2 linked regions of the Homo sapiens genome follow. The protein of the gene in region 1 purifies or fractionates together with the protein of each later gene. This does not show direct contact. Each region holds a gene or a part of one and is shown on either strand. Other genes may lie near its edges.

Region 1 (4,181 bases):
CACACCACCACGCCTGGCTAATTTTTGTACTTTTAGTAGAGACGGTTGTTTTTTTTTTTTTTTTTTTTTTTTTTTTTTTTTTTTTTCTGAGACAGAATTTTGCTTTTGTTGCCCGGGCTAGAGTGCAATGGCCCGATCTTGGCTCACCGCAACCTCCACCTCCTGAGTTCAAGCAATTCTTTTCCCTCAGCCTCCCGAATAGATGGGATTACAGGCATGAGCCACCATGCCTAGTTTTGTATTTTTAGTAAAGATGGGGTTCCTTCCATGTTGGTCAGGCTGGTCTCAAACTCCCAACCTCAGGTGATCCGCCCGCCTCGGCCTCCCACAGTGCTGGGATTACAGGCGTGAGCCACCGTGCCCGGCCAGAGGTGGGGTTTTGCCATGTTGGCCAGGCTGGTCTCGAACTCCTGACCTCAGATGATCCACCTGCTACGACCTCCCAAAGTGATGGGATTACAGGTGTGAGCCACCATGCCCGGCCTCTTTATGAAACTTAAAGCCATCTTTCGTTATTGTTTCCTTGTCTTGGGCAGGTGGAAGAATCCCCCACCCCTTTTTTAAGGGATGAAGGGAGTTTCAGCTAGTGTCACAGAGTTGCCACTATATTAAATCTCTGCTGCTGAGTACAGATGATAAGGATTGTATTCAAAGTTGCCTGATAGGAGATTGGCAGGGGCAGGGTGAGGGTAGGTATTGACCAGCCCTGGGAATCTCTCTTACTGACAGGCAGGACCTGGGATCACAGGCATCAAGTACACATCTGGTCTGTCCATCTTTCCTCCCTCTATGGGTAACTGAATGTGAAAGGAAAACAAACCAGCGTTTACCCTAGGGAAGCCTTGACGGGTATTTGTGGGTATGTTACTGAGTCTTGTGCTAAAATTAATGACCTTGGGGAATGCGAAAGAAGCAGGCTTAGGATAAAAGAAAGTTCCTGAAAGAGGTGTTGCTTTGGGTAGGATTCCAAGGGACTCAAGACAAAACCCTCAGCTGGGAACGTTGGGGACTAGTTTTTGCCTCTTACAGATATGTGTTGAGACGGATTCTCCGCCGAGCTGTCCGATACGCCCATGAAAAGCTCAATGCCAGCAGGGGCTTCTTTGCTACGTTAGTGGATGTTGTCGTCCAGTCCCTGGTAGGTTTATTTCTCTGCTTACCCTTCTGTGCTAAAGCAGTCCGTTAAGAGGGATGGAGTGGGAGAGGGCATACTGTTAAGCAGCTTTTTGTTGCTGTTTTTTGAGACGGAGTCTCACTCTGTCACCCACGCTGGAGTGCAATAGAGTGATCTTGGCTCACTGCAACCTCTGTCTCCTGGGTTCAAGCGATTCTCCTGTCTCAGCCTTCCGAATAGCTGGGATTACAGGTGCACACCGCCAAGCCTGGCTAATCTTTTCTGTTTTAGTAGAGACAGGGTTTCACCGTGTTGCCCAGGCTGGTCTTGAACTCCTGAGCTCAGGCAATCCACCTGCCTCGGCTTCCCAAAGTGGTAGGATTACAGGCGTGAGCCACTGCACCCAGCTAAGGAGCTTTTTTAAGACGGGGCAGGGAACAGTCTCTGGCTTCATCCAGCCCCTCATCTTGCTTCCCCTTTGTCAGGGAGATGCATTTCCTGAGCTGAAGAAGGACCCAGACATGGTGAAGGACATCATTAATGAAGAAGAGGTGCAGTTTCTCAAGACTCTCAGCAGAGGGCGTCGCATCCTGGACAGGAAAATTCAGAGCCTGGGAGACAGCAAGACCATTCCCGGTAGGTACCAGTTTTTGCCCTTCTCCATCCTGGCCGTTTGATCTTTCTGGGAAAGACAAGCCCTTTCTGACAGACTGACTGTGGGCTCTCATGTCTCTGAGGCTGAACATAGCTTGATTGAATTGCTTTTGGTGCAAACTGGAATTTATAGTAAAATGGTAAAAGTAATGCATCATTGTGGCCAAAGTATTCAAACAATACAGAATACAAAAGTGTTCAGAAAATGAAAATCCTCTTTTCCACACTCATTTCTCAGAGGGAACAACTCTTAATGGTTTGGTGTAGAACTCTTCAGGATTCTTCTCTGTTTGCATGCAAATACATGTAGATATTTGTGTGTGTGTATTTTTCAAGCAAAAGTGGGAATATTTGGTATGTACTGTTTTGCAATTTGGGGAAAATTAATTCCAAAGATTTTCTCCCCAGTTTCCAAAGATTCTTTATTGAAGTATAATGAACAAGGGAAAAGCTTGATGAATTTTCACAAATTGAACACACATTCAGATCAAGAAATAGATTTGTCAGCTGGGTGTGGTGGCTCACACCTGTAATCCTAGCACTTTGGGATGCCGAGGCGGGCGGATCACGAGGTCATGAGTTCAAGACCAGCCTGCCCAACATGGCAAAACCCCGTCTCTACTAAAAATACAAAAAATTAGCTGGGTGTGGTGGCATGCGCCTGTAATCCCAGCTACTTGGGAGGCTGAGACAGGAGAATTGCTTGAACCGGGGAGGCGGAGGTTGCATTGAGCCAAAATCATGCCACTGCACTCCAGCCTGGGCAACAAGAGCGAAACACCATCTCAAAAAGAAAAAGAAAAAGAAATAGATGTGTAAGGCTGGGCACAGTGGCTCACACCTTTAATCCCATCACTTTGGGAGGCTGAGGCAGGCAGATCACCTGAGGTCAGGAATTTGAGACCAGCCTGGCCAACATGGTAAAACCCCATCTCTACTAAAAATGCAAAAATTAGCCATGCATGATGGCGGGCACCCATAATCCCAGCTACTCGGGAGACTGAAGCAGGAGAATCGCTTGAATCCTGGAGCTGGAGAGTGCAATGAGCCGAGATCACACCAGTACACTCCAGCCTGGGCAACAGAGTGAGACTCTCAAAAAAAAAGAAATAGAAAATTGTCCAGGTGAGGTTGTTTTTGTTTTTGAGATGGAGTCTCACTCTGTTGCCCAGGCTGGAGTGCAGTGGTGTGATCTCAGCTCACTGCAAGCTCCGCCTCCCAGGGTCATGCCATTCTCCTGCCTCAGCCTCTCTAGTAGCTGGGACTACAGGTGTCCGCCACCGCGCCTGGCAATTTTTTTATTTATTTTTTTTTATTTTTTATTTTTGAGACAGAGTCTTGCTCTGTCGCCCAGGCTGGAGTGCAGTGGCGCTATCTCGGCTCACTGCAAGCTCCACCTCCCGGGTTCACGCCATTCTCCTGCCTCAGCCTCCCGAGTAGCTGGGACTACAGGCGCCCGCCACCATGCCCGGCTAATTTTTTTGTATTTTTAGTAGAGACAGGGTTTCACCGTATTGGCCAAGATGGTCTCGATCTCCTGACCTCCTGATCCGCCCGCCTCGGCCTCCCAAAGTGCTGGGATTACAGGCGTGAGCCACAGCGCCTGGCCAAATTTTTTGTATTTTTCCTAGAGACGGGGTTTCACCATGTTAGTCAGGATGGTCTCAATCTCCTGACCTCATGATCCGCCCGCCTCGGCCTCTCAAAGTGCTGGGATTACAGGCGCGAGCCACGGTGCCCAGCCCAGGTGAGGTTTAAAAAACAAAACAAAACAAAACAGAATTGTATCAGGACATCCATTGTGCTTCCCCCAGGTTAACTGAAAAAGATGTGCTGGATTTTCTGATGGGCACACAGGGCCGATACTGATAGCCTTGTGTCTTTAATTCCTTCTGCCAGTCCCAGCATCCTTTTGGAGGGCTTGGCATGGAAAAGGGGCTGTCTGTTTTTTTTGACACACCTCCTTTGTGCTGTGTAGGAGACACTGCTTGGCTCCTCTATGACACCTATGGGTTTCCAGTGGATCTGACTGGACTGATTGCTGAAGAGAAGGGCCTGGTGGTAGACATGGATGGCTTTGAAGAGGAGAGGAAACTGGCCCAGGTAAAGAACTTGGAGAGTGAACAGGAAACCCAACACCTTCCAACCCAGCACCACTTGGCTGCAGACTGAGCATGAGTTTCCTTCCATTAAAGTCTTTGAAGTGCTTTTTCCCCTAGATCAGTGGTTCTCAAGTGGGGGCGAGTCTGCCTTCCAGGGAGTAATTGGCGATAATGTCTGAAGACATTTTTGATTTTCACAACTAGGGGCAGATCCTGCTGTCACGTACTTGGTAGAGGCCAGGGTGCCCCTCAGCATCCCACACTGCAAGAGAAGTTTCCACAACAGAGAATGATCTGGCCCCAAATGTCAG
Region 2 (3,500 bases), on another chromosome or scaffold:
CTTTAAAAAGTGTTTGTAGTGGGGTGCTACTGGCAACAATAGTAACATTTAATAGTTACTTTCGAGGCCAGCATGGTGGCTCACGCCTGTAATCCCAGCACTTTGGGAGGCCGAGGCAGGCAGATCACGAGGTCAGGAGTTCGAGACCAATCTGGCCAACATAGTGAAACCCTGTCTCTACTAAAAATACAAAAAATTAGCCAGATGTGGTGGTGTGCGCCTATAATCCCAGCTACTTGGGAGGCTGAGGCAGGAGAATCGTGTGAACCCGGGAGGCAGAGGTTGCAGTGAGCCGAGATCACACCATTGTACTCTAGCCTAGCCCAGGTGACAGTTCAAGACCCCACCTCAAAAAAAAAAAAAAAAAAAAAAATTCCTTTTGAAAAACCTACTCACAAGAATTTTCTGAAAATGAGACCTTTAATGAAAACATACCTATGAATACTGATTTTAGCTGTTTAACTTACCTTACTCAGAGGGGCTTTGATTTTTTTCAAGCACAAAGCAAGAAGTTCCCTGGATTCTAAAGCACACTGTATCCAAGTTCCTGGTGGTTGAAAATACCTAAAAGAGAAGATAACATACTGAAATCCAACATCTGTCAGGAAACACAGAAATTTCCATCTGAATACACAGATATAACCCAAATTATTAACCAGGCATAATAAAACCCAAGGATGATATGAAGCACTTAACTCAAACATATTTTAATGGTTCCAAAACTTTCAACTAGACTAGCAGCTTTAATTAAAAAGGTAAAATTCTGACTGAGAAAGTCAATCTGAAATAACCTACTAAAGTGATCTTATTACTTTAATCACCAAATCACCACTAAAATGTCCAAGAGTCTCTTAAAGCTATGCTCTGAAAAACAGGTGAGAATCATCTCAAAATGGCATTAAAATGGTTTATTATGTACTTCTAAAATGCCTGAGAACTGCTTATTTTTCACAAAAAAAAGGTACATTAGTACCTCACAACACTATAAATCAGCAATAGTTCAGTCTATTCATCTACATTTCAAGTCCTTTTCAAATTGTAAATTGTAAAACAACATTTAAAATCTTGGGTAAAACCAGACTAAAACAAAACTTAAATCTCTTACATATGTGCTTTAAGGTTTTTAGTCCTGCCTACCCAGGACTTAGCACTATGCCACATACATCTTATAGTAGGTGTTCAATAAATGCTTGCTAAATATAAAATACTTCCAAACATGTTATGTGAATGTCTTTTTGCCATACTTGTTACATAACAGAAAGTTTTGACTTTCACTTTTCAAGGTTCAATCAAAAACATTACACAGGTCTCCCTTTGTTTATAAGTACATATTTATTTCGTATTTTTTTTTCCTTTTTTCTTTTGAGACAGAGTCTCGCTCCATCCCCCAGGATGGAGTGCAGTGTATGATCTCGGCTCACTGCAACCTCTGCCTCTCGGGTTCAAGCGATTCTCCTGCCTCTCGAGTAGCTAGGATTACATGCGTGCCCCACCACGCCTGGCTAATTTTTGTATTTTTAGTAGAGACAGGGTTTCACCATGTTGGCCAGTCTGGTCTCGAACTCCTGACCTCAGGTGATCCACCCGCCTCAGCCTCCTCAAGTGCTTGGATTACAGGCGTGAGCCACCAAGCCTGGCCTATGAGTAAACGTTTAGAGTTAGAAAGGGCTTCACATATCACCTAATAAAACCCTTCATTCTGATGAGGAAATTGAGGCCCAGAGATGATAAACAGCTAAGAGTTTCAAACAGCTAGTTTGTGAGGAAGCCAAGACAAACTAAGTCTGTTTAGTTCTTTATCAGTACTTTTCTAACTCCACCAGGCTTTTAATAGCAAATATTTATAAAAGATTAAGCCTCACACTTGCTAAGCTTATACACTGTAAACTCCCTGAAACAGTACACAGTTTCATGTGTTTGTGTATATATATGTATATATACACACACACACATATATATTTTTACATATATACACACACACACACATATATATACATGTATGTAAATATTTTGGGGAAGAGATACAGTTTTCAAATTCTCAAAGGAGTCCATGAACCACCCCTCTAGAGATACACACTCAAAAAGTTAGCGTCTTAATCCATTTTGGAAATAACAGGCATACACTTTTACACTCATTAGGCAGTTTTGTGTTACTCAATGGCCTAATAGATGTAAGTTGTTTATGCTGACAAAGAAAATCAAGAGGAATGAAACATTAACATTCAGAAGAAGTCTTCTTCCTTCAAATCCAATCTTTATTTCAGACCATTCCAGATATAATTTATTGAGCTTCTTTTCCATCAACAATAGTTATTTTAATTACACGTGAATGTTATGAGTTTTTAAAACATATTACTAAATTACTCCAAACATAAGCTTTTTATCATACATGGCTTCTAATAACTAAAGAAAAAAAAACCTCATAATAACAATATGTCCTCAATAATCTGCTCTCACCCTTACAAACATCAACTCCTATTAACTATATACATCAAATCTATTAGATCCTTTAACAGAAGAACAGATTCAAATACATTTACACTATCTTTACCAGATTAGAAGGACACACTAGAAAAGTACACTATAAAATTGCAAATTCTAAAATCTTTGGCGACACCAACAGAAAATTTAAACCTTAATTGCATGCACTTTACTCCATATACCTTCGTGTAATCTCAGCATATCTCGGTGGTTCTCTAAATGTAAATTCCAACTTTAAAAAGAGCAAAATTGTACCGCACTGTACCTTTGACATTGTTTGCAGAACGAAATCGAGACTTGTTTCGGAATACCTTGGCTGATGTCCACTTTACTTCGCAAACAGGCCACACAAATATTGGCAGGATTTGGACTTATCGGAACACCACACTCACAGCACAAGCTTTAATAAATAAAGGATAAATTTTTCACATTAGATTTTTAAAATACACTAAATTTTTTTTTAGATGCCAAACAAACAAAAGCCTTCAAGTTAGGCCACAGCATCTTTGCCCTTTTCAAAAAAATAACAGAAACAAAGCAACCTGGGCCAGCCAGTGGCTCACACCTGTAATTCCAGCACTTTGGGAGGCTGAGGCGGGTAGATCACCTGAGATAAGGAGTTCAAGACCAGCCTCGCCAACATGGTGAAACCCCATCTCTACTAAAAATACAAAAATTAGCCAGGCATGGTGGCGCACGCCTGTAATCCCAGCTACTTGGGAGGCTGAGGCATGCATATCAAACCCAGGAGGTGGAAGTTGCAGTGAGCCAGATCACGCCACTGCACTCCAGCCTGGGTGACAGACCAAGACAATGTCTCAAAAAAAAGAAACAAAAAAAAGAAACAAAGCAATCTTCAAAGATGCAGTAGATAAAGAATAACCCTGTAATACAGGGGCAAAAACACCAAAAATGGCTATAATTCTAAAAATCCTCAATATAAGGCCGATGTCCTAAAGGTTCTAGAAGGTCAGTACTGTCCAACAGAATTTCATGCCACGACAGAAATGTTCTATTCT

What was found. The genes of interacting proteins can lie anywhere in the genome.
Region 2: the proteins of AARS1 (region 1) and NMD3 fractionate together in Homo sapiens (co-fractionation; one large-scale study listed by BioGRID). This does not show direct contact.

Annotation. Positions count from the first base shown.
Region 1 is NC_000016.10:70,265,228-70,269,408, reverse strand, and holds part of AARS1 (alanine--tRNA ligase, cytoplasmic), read left to right. Parts: intron 1-1,029; coding exon 1,030-1,138; intron 1,139-1,599; coding exon 1,600-1,750; intron 1,751-3,746; coding exon 3,747-3,871; intron 3,872-4,181. UniProt on the Homo sapiens protein: Catalyzes the attachment of alanine to tRNA(Ala) in a two-step reaction: alanine is first activated by ATP to form Ala-AMP and then transferred to the acceptor end of tRNA(Ala). Also edits incorrectly charged tRNA(Ala) via its editing domain.
Region 2 is NC_000003.12:161,224,311-161,227,810, reverse strand, and holds part of NMD3 (60S ribosomal export protein NMD3), read right to left. Parts: intron 2,882-3,500; coding exon 2,747-2,881; intron 565-2,746; coding exon 468-564; intron 1-467. UniProt on the Homo sapiens protein: Acts as an adapter for the XPO1/CRM1-mediated export of the 60S ribosomal subunit.